Linked DNA regions of Homo sapiens. The protein of the gene in region 1 binds, or shares a complex with, the protein of each later gene. Each region holds a gene or a part of one and is shown on either strand. Other genes may lie near its edges.

Evidence for each region. The genes of interacting proteins can lie anywhere in the genome.
Region 2: the proteins of FKBP3 (region 1) and MTOR are in contact, whole or in part, in a crystal structure (PDB 5GPG), measured with the Homo sapiens proteins. Residues at the interface, in NP_002004.1 of Homo sapiens: Lys160, Pro161, Leu162, Ser163, Lys170, Tyr198, Lys201, Gly202, Gln203, Pro204, Asp205, Ala206; in NP_001373429.1 of Homo sapiens: Glu2032, Tyr2038, Phe2039, Gly2040, Arg2042, Tyr2088, Val2094, Leu2097, Tyr2105, His2106, Arg2109.

The regions. Positions count from the first base shown.
Region 1 is NC_000014.9:45,131,449-45,139,141, reverse strand, and holds the start of FKBP3 (peptidyl-prolyl cis-trans isomerase FKBP3), read left to right. Parts: upstream 1-4,660; 5' UTR 4,661-4,685; coding exon 4,686-4,793; intron 4,794-4,887; exon of another isoform or gene 4,888-6,874; coding exon of another isoform or gene 6,875-6,883; intron 6,884-7,693. Other genes in the region: FANCM (Fanconi anemia group M protein), read right to left, coding at 1,901-2,073, 2,603-3,110. UniProt on the Homo sapiens protein: FK506- and rapamycin-binding proteins (FKBPs) constitute a family of receptors for the two immunosuppressants which inhibit T-cell proliferation by arresting two distinct cytoplasmic signal transmission pathways. PPIases accelerate the folding of proteins.
Region 2 is NC_000001.11:11,126,552-11,133,584, forward strand, and holds part of MTOR (serine/threonine-protein kinase mTOR), read right to left. Parts: intron 6,647-7,033; coding exon 6,529-6,646; intron 4,227-6,528; coding exon 3,978-4,226; intron 3,288-3,977; coding exon 3,187-3,287; intron 2,401-3,186; coding exon 2,304-2,400; intron 2,002-2,303; coding exon 1,903-2,001; intron 1,576-1,902; coding exon 1,453-1,575; intron 1,256-1,452; coding exon 1,073-1,255; intron 594-1,072; coding exon 459-593; intron 246-458; coding exon 71-245; intron 1-70. UniProt on the Homo sapiens protein: Serine/threonine protein kinase which is a central regulator of cellular metabolism, growth and survival in response to hormones, growth factors, nutrients, energy and stress signals.

The DNA.
Region 1 (7,693 bases):
TTACATATAATAGAAGGATTTTTGAAAAGTCATGAGTGCAGTAAGGAAGACAAAAAGATTGCTTACTGGATTGATGCTTTTAAAAATGTTTTGTATGATAGCCAAAATTCAAAGTGTTCTTTCAGATTGTGAGGCAGTTTTGAGTGAAATCATTTTGTTGTTATATGGCACATGTATCAATATGCCTTCCAGAACTATTACATATGAAAAGTAAGCCAAATACATTACTTCTTTTCACGAAGAATTCTCAAGCATCTTGTAGAAGAGGAAATGGTGGTGTGTGCCTCATGGAGCAGGTGTACCTATTGGAATGTATATCTGGAATATTCAATGCGGTGTAAGCTGTCAGGGCTGTCTGGTTATTAATGAAGTCAATGCATGTTTCATTATATTCATAAAGCCTTGCTGTTAAAAAAAAATCTAATGCCTAGAAATGTTTTGAAAATAAAATAATTACCAGCTAAATCTTCAAAACGTATTCCATACAGTTTGAATTTTAAAAAATTTTTAAGTGTTTTATTATTTCATTTCATTTTTGTAGACACAGGGTCTCACTATGTTGCCCAAGCTGATCTCAAACTCCTGGCCTCAAGCTAAAATTTTTTAAATGCCCCTCTCAGATGGAAATTTTTAACATGCTATGTATTAATTTAATTTGGAATGATATCAATAAGTGGAAAAATATATTATATTCATTTCCTGAATATAATTAGGAAGATCAATTATTAAAAAAGATGACAATTATCCCTAATACAGAGATATAATACAATAACGTTTACAGTCCCCAAAGAAATGACTATACAAATTCAAAAACTGGCAGAGAAATTCATGTCTTTGCCCTAAATGAAATTAACTTTCCCTACCTTTCCCTCTTTTATTCTTGCTCTATAATCTCCTCCTATCATCACCAACTACTATAGTTTTAACTACCATCTATATGTTTATAATTTCCAAATCTGTATCTCTATCTACCTCAGAACTCTCCAGCAAGATCCATACTTCTATCAAGTATCGCCTAATGAATATCTACAGCTGAATTCCTCATAGACACCTCAAACTCAACACATCTAAATCATCTTTCCACGTTCCCCCTAAACCTGCTCTCCACCCAGAACTCACAATCTTCACAGTTTTCCAAGTCAGAAATCTGGAAGTCATCCTACATCCCTTCTACCCCTCATTAGATACTCTGTCTTTAGCCTTCTTCTCTCTAATCTCTTTCAAATCTTAAGTGTTATCCCAGCCAAACATTTTTTAATGAGTCCCCACCACCTTTATCCCCTATGGCCTACAAAGGCTTTCAAACTATTAAGCATAAAATATTAATGACCTGGACCTTGAGTAGAAGAGGCAAAATCCCCCTTAGGAGAAGAGGGAAACAGAAAGTCAACTTCATTCAGTGCAAAGATATGAATGATGTTTGCAACCACATCCCACTACTTCATCTTATTTTATATTCCTGGAGTACTCAACTGGAAGGCACTGTGTTAGGTATGTGGCATACATTATGTCATTATTTTACCTAGCCGCCAAGAAGAGACACCGCATATCCACTACCAATCTTTATTAATTTCAAAACTCCTTTCATACCCTATTTTAGATCACTGTCCCAACCATGACTAGGCTCTCATGATCTACATCTGACACTAATTATCTGGTTAGTCTTAAAATAGAAGAAAAGAAAAAGAAAACAACAATAACAGCAAAAGGCAGTGAAGACACTGATTTGAATGGATGACAGAAAGTACAGATATTCTTTATCACCATCTGTTCTGAGATAATAGACGTAAAGGCTTTTTATAATAATATTGTCAATAACTTCCATCACTAGTAACTATTCGCCAAAATTCTCTTTAACAGTACAGTTACAATACAAAATACCGTTTAACAAAATTATTACCTGGCAATAAGCATAGTTTCCGAGAGCTTTATGAGCTTCATCAATAACTAAACACTTTATTTCAGCAGCGGGACAAGCTCCTCTAGAAAGGTCATTTACCATGACCTGAGGTGTAAGAAAAAGCACTCTCTTACTGCACCATATTTCCTTCCTGGTGGAAGCTTGTGTAGACCCTGAAAATAAAAGTGACATTCTACATTCTAAACTTCAGACTGTTATCTATAAAATATAAATAGTCTGGCTTTTTCAGAATGCAAACATGCTTTGGTAACATTAAGAGAAAAACAATTTGACAATTCATCGGAATGCTACATTTTAAAGTTCTGGTGTGGTCCAAATATCAAAGCTGGCACTTATCTAGGACTACAACCAAATTGTCTTTAGAAAATTCCTACAAAATGGCATATTTGAAGAGAGGCAAATTCTTCAACTGAGAAATCTTTTTCAGGAAGAATGCCAGGAAATATCATGTTCAGTTACCCATGGGGTATACGCACATAATAGCTTCAAAATACTATGACAAGCTGCAGATATTCTCTGAAGATTGAATAAAGCAACCCTATTCATCAGTTTTGGGCTTGCTGCAAGTAGAGAATGTTTTAAGAGGGAGGGCGTAAGATGCACATGTTGTAGCTTGGGAACTATTCCACATGGGTCAGGAATTCCCAGCTCTTACTTCAAAATTAGTCCAGTCTAAGATACCTGTCATTTCGGCCATGTGGGATTGCGGGATACCCATCACCTGGTAGCAAGCCTCGATCTGCTGTGTCACCAAGGGTTTCGTTGGGGCCATGAAGACCACCTTTCCTGAAGGGAACCAGCGGTAGAAATTGTACATGACCACGGCGGCAATAAAGGTCTTTCCCAGTCCGGTAGGCAGACACACCAGCGTATTGCAAAACAGAGCAGCCCGGGAAATGTGCAGCTGGTAGTCCCGCACTGGGCAATTGGTAGGGTAAATCCACAGGGCGCCCGCGGAGGTGCAGAACCCGCCATTCTCTAGACACAACTGCCGCTCAGCCTCGTACGCCGCGACAAGCAACACATCATCGTCCGACTCCAGCTGAGCCTCCGCTGCTGCTGGCAAAGGCGCCTTGGAGCTGCCAGGGCTCTGAGGTCGCTCAGTTCCGGAGCTGCAACCCGGAGTCCCAGATGATCGGGAGATACTTGAGCCCCACGTCTGAAAAAGCGTTCTTTGCCGTCCGCTCATTAGGCCGACAACCACCGAAGGCTTCTGTCAGATATCCGTAGCAGCAGCAGCTCAACCGCTACGGTTCCGATCCCCATCGGTTTCCTTCGCACAAAACTCTGGAACGAGAAGGCGGGACTAAGGCCAGTTTATCCAGTTGAAAATGCCGCTACTGAGTTTCCGTTGGGAATGATTGGCTGGCTTCCCGGAAACCTTCACAGCCCTGCCGGAGACTCATGCGCATTATTAAGGCGTTACTCTAAATATGGTCCCCGGTGCGGTTCCGGTGTTTTGTTTTAACAAACTCTAAATTTAAGTTCCGTTTCCAATGATTAGATGGCTGGGCGTCATTGCTAACGTGATAAATCACTTAAAATGTTATAATAGAGATTTATTGTAAAATATTACATACCCGGGGACAATGGAATAGCCACCAGTTTGGGAACTTAATGTTATTGAGCGTCTAACGTGCCTCATTCCTTGTACTTTTAAATCAGAATATAAAGTGAAAAGCAAAAATGTGTAGATGGAATAATTTGTCTTATATCTCTATCTGGGCTGAGAAAACAAAATGCCAAGTCTCTTTTTCACCGCGCTGGGAGTGGCAACCCATTATTTTAATATTTTCATTGTTTAAAGGGAAGTGAACGTGGTCTGGTCCAGCTATTCGTCAGAATTTTTTTTTTTAATGCTCCTTGCAAAGCAGAGCTAACTCATAGGCAACATGCCCAGAGTCAGCCTACATTTTTTTAAGTAAGGAGTCCTGATGTTCAACTATTAAATCTTTATTATAGGTAAGAGCATTATAATAAACGTCGGTGTGCAATTATTCCACTCTAACGAAGATTTCTGTCTCAAATAATTCCTGACTTCTCTCTAAACCTGACTTTGAGTAACCTCTGTAAATTTGTTTCCTCGTGTACTGAGAAAAAAATATACATCACAGAGTTACGAGCATTAATAATGTCATTCTCATCAGCAAGTGGCATCCTGAGTGCGGCTTCTTTATAAATTGTTTTATTTGTTAAAGTTTCTGAACTTCGTTTTGGACAAACTTTCTCGTATTTGTATGGGGGGAAGGGGATGGGCAGTTTGTATTTAAGTTTCGGTTGTGTGATCTTTAAAAGGGAAATGGTGGGATATGGGTTTTCGGATCGACAAGGACTGAAGCACTTCAGGTGTGACTTTTTAGGCTAGAACTAGATAAAACGAGATAAGGAGCCTGAATGCTGTTTTCTTTTAACAGGTTATAGACTGGACTTTAAAGGCATAGCTGCCTTAAATGTGGGTAATGGTTGATAAATGTCGCTACCATCAGAGGTCGCTTCACAAGGTGTCTAATTCAGAATCGAAGATCTCTAGCGGTCTTCTACTCAGTCGACTGCAGAGACGACCGCGGTAGGTTTTTCAACCCGGACTCAACAAAGAAGCCCTCATAGCACAGCCTTGACGTCACTCAAAGACAGGCCCCAATCCCGACTGCTAGAGCAGAGGCCCGCCCCTCGACCTCCGTGAGTGGCCCCGCCCCGCCCTAGGGGGCGGGGCGATGCCGAACTGCGGCGGGCTGGCTCAGTAAAGCGGAGGCAGCGGGGGAAGATGGCGGCGGCCGTTCCACAGCGGGCGTGGACCGTGGAGCAGCTGCGCAGTGAGCAGCTGCCCAAGAAGGACATTATCAAGTTTCTGCAGGAACACGGTTCAGATTCGGTACCAGAGGCGTAGGGGCGGCCGGGCTGGTGCGGCTGAGGGACGCCTCACCCCCCTGGAGATGCCCATACATTCCGTATTCCTCTGTGCCCCCGCCCTCGTCTTCCCGCGGCCGGTGGCCTGGAAGGCCGGAGAGGCCCAGCTTGTGCTTTGGTGCCTCGCTCCCGCCTCTCGGGCGTTCTCTACTGGGGCAGGGGAGCAGCTTTATTTCTTGGGGCACACAGGCTGCAATTGTAGAGTTAGAACCTCATTGGGATCCTTGAGTGGGGGTGGAGGCCAGAAAAATAGGAACCCGAGGATATTGGGGGCTAGGGCGGAGAGGCCGAGGAATAGTGGTGTGGATGAGACTCCTGGGAGCGGGGCGCCGGCTACTAGGGAAATGGGAAGGGATGTGAAGATTTCTGTGGGAACGGTGTATCCAACTTGCTTTTCTCAACAGTTTACTAAATACTGAACATTAATGCGTGTGATTTTTAAAAAATCCGTAGGTTGTGGTTTAAGTTTTGATTTAACATATCGACCCTTTAAATGACCTTTTCACCTTTATACTTTAAGGGAGCTACATGCACATTTCTCTTGTGCAGTGGTCTGTCATTGTTATAAACAGACTAAGAAATTTATTTGAAATGCTTTATACTGTAGGCTCTCCATTTGTCAGCATAGTCTCCATCTTAACCATCCGTCTATAGTCAAGTTATTTTTGTTACACTTGTTTTTCCTTTGGAAAATAAGTTCATTCATGCACCTGTTAAATTGCTGAAATAGTTGTGCACGCAGCATTCTCTTACAAGCGGCAGCCTGCTTGTGTTTTCTATACAATTTTTAAAATTCTAAACTTTTCATTTAGAAAAACTGTTTCTGGGTTTTTTTGTTTGTTTGTTTGAGACGGAGTCTCTCTCTGTTGCCCAGGCTGGAGTGCAGTGGCGCGATCTCGGCTCACTGCAACCTCCGCCTCCCGGGTTCAAACGATTCTCCTGCCTCTGCCTCTCGAGTAGCTAGGACTACAGGCGCGTGCCACCACGCCAGGTTAATTTTTTGTATTTTTAATAGAGACGGGATTTCACCGTGTTAGTCAGGATGGTCTCGATCTCCTGACCTCGTGATCCGCCCGCCTCGGCCTCCCAAAGTGCTGGGATTACAGGCGTGAGCCACTATTTCTGGGTTATTTTGAGAAGCTTATATTTTATTTTCATTTTGGGCGGGCGTCATGACAGGGAGATAGAAGAACTCTCCAACTTCCAGTGCCTTCTTCCTTAATTATTATCCTGGCATCCGCATCTTAGATTAATTTAGCAGATATTAATACAACATCTGTAACAAGAACTATTCTCAGTGTTTGGAGGTACAAGGGTGAAAAAGAACATGTGTCGGGGATCTTACCCCATTTTAATGGAACTATTTTCTCTTAAGCCAATTCGTATTTCATCTGAAACAATAGAATAGACATCATTAACATTTAATAATACCTCAGTCATGTACTTCATCCATCATATTCTTATGAAACAAATCATGCCATGTGGAATCGTATGTAAAACTGGGCCACGTGGAAGAATTTCAACAGACTTGGATTATCAAAATGTTTTTATAACATTAATCTTTTAAATGCATAGTCTCGGTCGGTCGTGGTGGCTCATTCCTGTAATCCTAGCACTTTCGGAGGCCAAAGCGGGCGGATCACGAGGTCAGGAGATCGAGACCATCCTGACTAACAGTTGAGGCCAGGCATTGAGGACCAGCCTGGCCAACGTAGCGAAACCTCATTTCTACTAAAAATACAAAAAAAATTAGCTGGGCCTGGTGGTGGGCGCCTCTAATCCCAGCTGTTCGGGAGGCTGAGGCAGGAGAATCGTTTCAACCCAAGAGGGGGAGGTTGCAGTGGGCCGAGATTGGGCCACTGCACTCCAGCCTGGGCGACAGAGCTAGACTCTGTCTCAAAAATTAATAATAATAATCTCCGGTGATCATTAACACTTAGACCTATACTTGACAATAATTATTTTATTAATCATAAGATATCAAAGAGATGTTTATGCTTTTATGCTTTGGGTATTTTCTGGAATCTTTAACAAGAAACCACCAGCATGCTAAAGGTAACTGATTACTTCCGTTTAGTCAACTTTGTCTCCTTTCCCCATCAGCTGTTATTTAGAACATATCTTTGAAAGAAAAAGCAAAAGAAAAAAATACAATAGTGATAGTGTTAGCTGTTAACTGCTAATAATGTTAACTGCTTTATCAAAAGCTTAGAAGATGCCAAAGGACAACTTTGAGAATGTAACAAAATTAGGAATTAAGCAAGGACCACAAGGCAGAAAAAGAAGCAGAATAAAATAAGGAAACAAAGAAGTTATGGAAATCCTCACAATTACGTGATTTTCAGATAAAGTTATACTACGACTTGCTATTTCAGCAGTAGTATTTTAGTGTCCATCTGCCATCTTAGCAGTCTTATATTTGAAAGAAAAGCAATTCCGCTGTTACCTTGAGTTATTAAATACAGTATTAATCATAATCCCAATATTTATTAAGTTCTTACTGTGTGACAGGCTCTATGCTAAATGCATTAAATGGATTTTTGCATTTTATCCTTATATCAACTCTTTGACGTAGACGCTGTTATTAATCTTCCACTACAGATATGGAGGCTGAGTCTTTAGACAAGCTTAGTCCCCTGTCTAGTGTCAGACAGCTAGGATTTTTTTTTTTTTTTTTTTTTTTTTGAGACAGAGTCTTGCTCTGTCACCTAGGCTGGAATGCAGTGGTGCGATCTCGGCTCACTGCAACCTCCACCTCCCAGGTTCACGCCATTCTCCTGCTTCAGCCTCCCGAGCTGGGACTACAGGCATGCGCCACCATGGCCAGCTAAATTTTGTATTTTTAGTAGAGATGGGGTTTTGTCA
Region 2 (7,033 bases), on another chromosome or scaffold:
AGAAGAGGGAAGGGGTCTCAGCCAGTGTAGGAGGGAGAAGTGGGTGACAGAAGTGCACAATGGTCCTTACCCATAAGTGTCAATTTCCGGGGCCTCTGCTTGGATGTGATGACTTGCAAAGACGGTGCTATGGACTGAATGCGAATGATTGGCTGGTTGGGGTCATATGTTCCTGGCACAGCCAATTCAAGGTCCCGGCACATCAGAAGTTTTGGGGAAACATATTGCAGCTCTAAGGATGTGAGCTGTAAATAATTACCAAAGGATTTAGTGTTCTGCCTCCAGGGAAGAATTTAAACGCAATTTAAGTATTTTTCAGTGGATTGCTAATAACAATTACTTGTCCCAAAGCAGAAGTAAAACCAGATGCTTTGGAATGAGTGTTAGAACATTCATAGACAGTAAAACAGAAAGGACTATAATGACAGTTAACCCTGCCAGGAGCCTGAAGATCCTACCTGAGGCAGCTGCTTTGAGATTCGTCGGAACACATGATAATAGAGGTCCCAGGCTTGGGTGAGGTCCTTGACATTCCCTGATTTCATGTACTTCCTGCACCACTCTTGGGCCTCCATTAAATCTCGACCATAGGCCTGAGAGAGAAAGCAGGCACGTTTTCAAGTTATCAAAGTCTCAACCAACCCAGGAGGCAAAATCCCCAGGCTGACTGCAGATATTCCTCAGGAGCCCGCTGTGGCCTGAAAACACTGGCAGGGGGCTGGAGAAAGCAAGAGCATAGGTGCAGGCCTCCAACCCTGGAGCTTCCAAACCAGCAGCATGGCTTATAGGGAAGGAAGGGTGAGAGGAGAGACGAGATGACCTCTTGAGAAATCTTGGGCTTTTCCAGTTAAAATTCAGAAGGGTCCCTGTAACTAATTTCTGATGTTTTATGCTCTGTGACCTCCATCAGAGCTCGTTTTATTAAAGTCAGTGGAAAGGCCAGAGGAAAAGAAATCTGACAAAGGCCTTGGGTCACGTCCTTTCATTCTATAAAAACTTTTCTCATTTCATTTTTTTTTAGTGGCAGAATATTTCTACAGGGTTATGTCCTTTCGTGTTTTTTACCCCATACCTGATTAAAGGATGTTTCCTTCAGAGTCTGGGGGCCCCGTTCCATCATAGCATGCAAGGGCTCCAGCACCTCAAACATGCCTTTCACGTTCCTTTCCCCAAAGTACAAACGAGATGCCTCTTCCAGGCCTTCATGCCACATCTCATGCCAGAGGATGGCCACTCGGATCAGCTCCTCGCTCACCTGAAGCCAAGAGAAGAAGGAGAGAAGCATCAAGAATCAGCTAACCTCAGAAAGGTCTGTTTTGGAGACACAGGAGGTACTATTTCCAGCAGTCAGAGGAAGTGCACAGCACCAATGCGAGGAAGAAAAACAATCCCACTTGCGCCCACCAGCTAAGGGACCAGGGTCTATGAAGCCCCACAGTGGCTCCGACCCACCATCATGGCCTGCTGGACCAGGGTGTTGCTGTGCTCACACATGTTCTTCAGAATCTTGTTGGCTGCATTGTGCCGGGCTGTCGTGGTAGACTTAGAAGCCACTGTCAGTGGGTAGATGAGGGCCTGAGGGAAAAACAGAAGAAACATCTATAAAGGAAATGTGGGTTGGGGAAGAGCTGGTATGAATTTTAAGGAGAATAACAAAACAAGTGGTGAGTGTGACATTAACATCTGCTTGAGACTACCAGGAAGGGGCTCAGTCTTCGAGGGAACGCTTTCTTTTTAGCAAGGCTCCCGGGCCCTCTGGGACGGCTGGCTGGACAGACCCTCCTGGGCCAGGATGGAACACATGGCTCCCAGTTCCTGCGCTTGTGTCGCCAGGGCAGCTTTTGGAAAGGCTGACCACCAAACCAGTGGTTAGATGAGAAACTGCCCAGAGTCTCCACATACCTGGGGGTGGTACCGACCAATGTCTGTGAGAAGCTGGTGAATGAGACGTCCCACCAAGGGTCTGGGCGTATCAATTCTTGCAATGAGCTGAGGTATAACCTGGTATTCAAAAAGACACAGTATGTAGCATATGAGACTTGAAACAACTAGTTATTCTTCTAGGCAAAGATCAATTCTTTTAACTTGTTTCGGTTGATGCTCTGAAATGGTTCATTCCCTTCCCTTTAGTTTCTAAAAGAAAATAAAGAAAATATGGACACTTGACACTGGGACCGAGCCCTACTTCCTTAGCACTGTATTAACACACACTGCCTTGTGACACTGAACACAGCATGCTTGTAAGAGGAGACACACAGAAGAGAGACTTGGAGCCACCTTCACCTGTAACCAAGTATCCTCACCTGTAGCCAGGTATCAATCTGGATGGCTTTCACCCCCTCCACTAAGGCCTCATTGACATCTGGCCAGTGACCATAATCAAACCATAAGGTGAGAACTCTGAAAAAGAAATGAGAAAGTCACAGAAAATTTAGTTTCCCAGTTTTTGCCTGCCTGTTTTTCATCTCTAAGGCTCCTGAGAAGAGAGCTGGCAGGGACTCCAACCAGTAACTCTCAAATGTGTTTGGCCTCCCATGGGAGCAGGTGTCTGTGATGGGTGGCAGTGCTCTTGACTGAACACCGTAAGAGTCACCCTGAGCAAATGAGCATTTCATCCCAGGTCACCGAGGGGTCACCATGGCATGTATGCAAACATCAAACAGACGAGCCAGGATAACCTTTAGAAAGCCACAAGTCTGCACATGTAAGAGTCGCTGTACGGCAGAGGCAACAGGGACACCTGGCTCTTAGCTGGCTGGAGATCCTCAAATGAAGGAGGATGTGGACCTTGTCACCTTTACCCTCTGGGTTAACTGATTTGAGTCATTTGTTTAGACCTCTCCAAGTTGCTGAGGGATTTTAGAAATACTGTGACTTCAATAGGCAACAGGGTGGTCAGAAAAAAAGAAATATTGTGATTAACAGATGGGTTAATAATCCCTCCATAATAAACCACACATGGAGAGTTCTCACTCCACTTCTCCTCCTCACTCTCTGTAGGTTTCACCCACACAGGTGGGGCCCAGTCAGCTGTTACTCCTTAAATGCAGTGCAGAAAAAAGGCACATACATCGATCTTGGGTGTCCTGATCAGGGTCAGGAAGGGAAAGAGGACTTTTACGTGTGACTTCTAGGTCTTGCCATTAACATGGCCTACCAGAGTTGCATCCTTCCCTTCTCTGATACCTGAGTGTATCCTGGAGGTTGTTGCCTCGTGACAAGGAGATGGAACGGAAGAAGCCCTGGACGGCAGGCACCGTGTACATCAGGAGGGTTTTGGACAGATCCTGTTGGAACACACACGTGTTAGCGACACTCTTGCCTCTGCTTTCTCATCTGTAAAATGGGCATAAGAGCATACTAACTGTACCTACTTCAAAGGGTGGTTATAACAATTAAATCGGTTAATGCATGAAAAATCTTTAATCATTACCTGGCACATAGCAAAGACTCAATAAATGGCAACTGTATCATAACTGTTATTATCTTGGGCTGACAGTGGCTTCCTGAACAGGATGGAGGGAGGAGGTGGAGCTGAGGCTCTGAACACCCGGATCTCTGGGCCTGCCAGCGGCCCTGGCGCATTCTGAACTGACAGCCCAAGGGGAAGGGGAAGAAGTGGAAGTGGAGAGAAAAAGGCAGAGGATGGACCTCCCAAGCCCCATCCTCAGAGTGGACCCGCAGCTGTGTACAGCCACCCACACACAGGTGCAGCACGTAGAGAATGAGCTCGTCCACAGGGAAGCTTGACAAGGAGCTTGCTCTTCAGCATAGAGGCTGCGTCAGCTCCCCAAACACAAATATTCACACACAAAGCCCTATCTCAGGCAGTGCTGGATGGTAGATAGGCAGTATTTTCCAGCTCCATCTGGCACTTCAGATACAGCCTCAGGTTCCTTTTAAGCTTAACAACGATTCCATTTCTCAGAGAGCCTGGCACCTTGGTTGGTTGTTAATAAGGAAGAAGGGAAGGGTACCTCAGTGACCTTCTTCTGCAGCGGCGATGGGGTGGGGCTGTTCTCGGTGCTCTCGGCCTCGCTCTCACTGTTGCTGCCCTCGGTGCTGGCAGTGGTGGTGGCAGTGGCGGCCGTGGTGGCGGCAGTGGTGGCGTTGGTGATGTTGGCCCCGCTGGCATGACGCAGTTTCTTCTTCTCATCGCGGGCTTGGTTCTGATGTTTGTAGTGTAGCACAGCTTCGAAGTTCATCACTGCCCACGCATGCCAGGCCTGGTTGGGGAGAAAGGCAAGGACAGACACTGGAGCTGTGACCAACAGCAGGGCTCAGAGGAGCGCAAGGTCGATGCTGAGGAACAGCTGCTCCTGCCTGTTCTGTGTGTCCATAAAGCAAACACTTCAAGGAGACACTCAGAAATGGCTGTTTTACTAAATTCAACATGATCCACTCACTTTGTGGAGCACTAACTATATAACGTACTATGAGTGCACTGCGAGAAGGGCACAGCAAGAGGAGCAGGAGAGAGCTCTTGCCTCAAGGGATCTCCCGGCCTCCTAGGGGAGCTCACGCACAAACCTGAAGACCTAGGTACTCTGCAAGGCACAATGGGAGTAGCAAGGACAGGCATTTGGAAAGCTTTGTCAAGAAGAGGGATTTGGGGTAGGTCTGGAAGAGAGCTGCAGAAGGGCAAGGAGGGAAACAAGAAGGCAGCGGTGGGGACTACTTGGCAAGGGGGAAGAATAAGGCCAGAGATGTGCAGATTGGTTCACGGGAAACAAGCCCATGAATGTGACCGTGCAGGGGATACATGCAGGCGAGGAGTGAGAGCGAGGCCAGCAAAGCACGCCTGGAGCAGGCACAGGGCTGGCACTTTCACCCAGAAAGCAGAGCTGCACTGGGTATAAAGTGTACATTTAGGGGAGAGCAGAAATGGCAAGCAGAAGTGGGGGCAAGCAGCAGTCATCACAATATTTCAAGGGAGCAAAGTTTTGACAGGTCACCAGATAGTGGACAAAGGAAGACATGAAGAGCATAGGAGCCTGACAGAGAAAGAATCTCACCCATCTGCCTGGTCCCAACACCTAGCCCACGGCCTGACAGAGAACCAGTGCTCAATGCTTGAAGGAAGAACCGCTGGTGCTTATTTGGATAAAGGAATACTACTCTCTCTGGGGTTCTGAGCGGCAATGACTCTACAGCGTACCACCACTTGGTTTAGCGAGTGTGAGGCAGAGTTTGCTTCCAGGCATGGTAACTTTGCAGTGATAGTAGGACACTACGTGACCCATTAATAGCTGAACTTTCTGAATAATTGGGAAATTCGTTTGTATGCCTTGCCAAAAACCTTGAACACAGGTGTATCCGTTTTCTCAACTAAGGAGAATAGATTGATCACAACTAACCTTTACTTGATGAGTAAGAATTCTACAATGACCCAGGTTTCAGTTTTCCCATACCTTCATTTATTCACTGAATATCTCTTGTGTATCTGCTATGTGCCTGGCAATGACCTGGGGTCAAGGTGAACAAGACAAACAGTCCTGGCATGCATACAGGGCCATGACGTTGATGGTAGAATACATCATAAAACAAAAGGGACCCACATTAGGAAAAGCTTTTAAAAACTAAAACTAAAGTTCCTGAAACCAACTTTTTTCTTGTGATTTGCTTACTTCCTAAAAGCTTAATGAATGAAAGTAACTCTGGTTAGAATACAACTCTGATTAATAAGCTTCCAGTTAATAGTGTTTACCGGATGTATTTTCCAGCTTTGGACATGCAAGCTGTCCTAGAGAGAGTATTACTCTTATGACAAAATGGACATTTTTCAAACCAGAATGAAGCATGCCTAAACAAAGGTAAGATCTGTATTATAAGTGCTTCTGCAGTCCTCAGATACAAGTTTAGATTTCAGAGAGATTAATTCACAAAGTATTGGCAAGCCAAGGAAATACTGGAAAGATGTCAATGACATCTGCCACACCAAGTAGTTACCAGAAAGCCTCTCAAAAAGAAATAAGAAAGTATATTCTCACCAAAGATATACACTTCCAAAAATCACCCCTCCATCAATCACATCTTTTATATATTTTCTAATTCTGTTTATCTCTTTCAAAAGTTTCCTGTAACATAACAGGATGTTACTTGGATCTTTCCAATAAAAACAAAGAAAGTTAAGTTCTTAGCTGAGGAGCAGGCAAGGATGCAAATCAGAAAAACGCTGAACAAGAACAGATGACCTAAGGGAAGATGTCACTCCAGAGATTAACCATGTGTCCAGATGCTCCCAGGAAAACAAGCAGCTCAGAGTCTGTAAGACAGCAGCAATCCCCAACACCACATACACATAATAATGGTGTAACAAGTATTTCTCCAATAATCTTTCTGTATTAATTAAACTTGTAGGGGGAAATGCAGGCTCCCTGGGCCTCTTATAGATAGGCTCCAGGGACTCAAGGAGTAAGTTCACAGCATCAGCCTAGCTCCGCAGAAGCTCAGCTGTAACCACGAGCACACAGGAGGACACGAGCCAGCCAGGGTGCTGGGTCTCACAGGTGGCCTGCTTCTGATCACCTTGTACCAGCTGCGGTCGTGCTCTGTGGCGGCGCTGTAGTACTGCAGCACTTTGGGGATTGTGCTCTCATTGATGCCCTGTAGATTCAGCTGCCACTCTCCAAGTTTCAGGAAGCATCTGGAAGCAGAGAAACAAGCCCCCATGACATTCCCTCCTCAAAACAGCCCTCCTAAGAGGACCACAAATTGTTAGGGGACACTGAAGCCCTTCTGGTATTTCCTCTTATTCTCAAGAGGCAATGTGAAGGAGCTAGCAAAATTTTCAGCCACACGCAAGAAAGGAGATGGGCTTTTGGAATACATTTTTAAGATACCATCTTTCCATCTTGACCTTTGTCTCTCAATGACAGCATAAACCATGTACCTGGTACAGATAGGTCTGTATGGACTTACCTACCCCAAACCCAATTTTTTGTGGGTGACAGTTGAGAGTTACTTCTTTATTGATTGCTATATGGCTTCTCCCTTACTTTTCCCTTTGCCTCCATTCTTTGTAATGAGATTA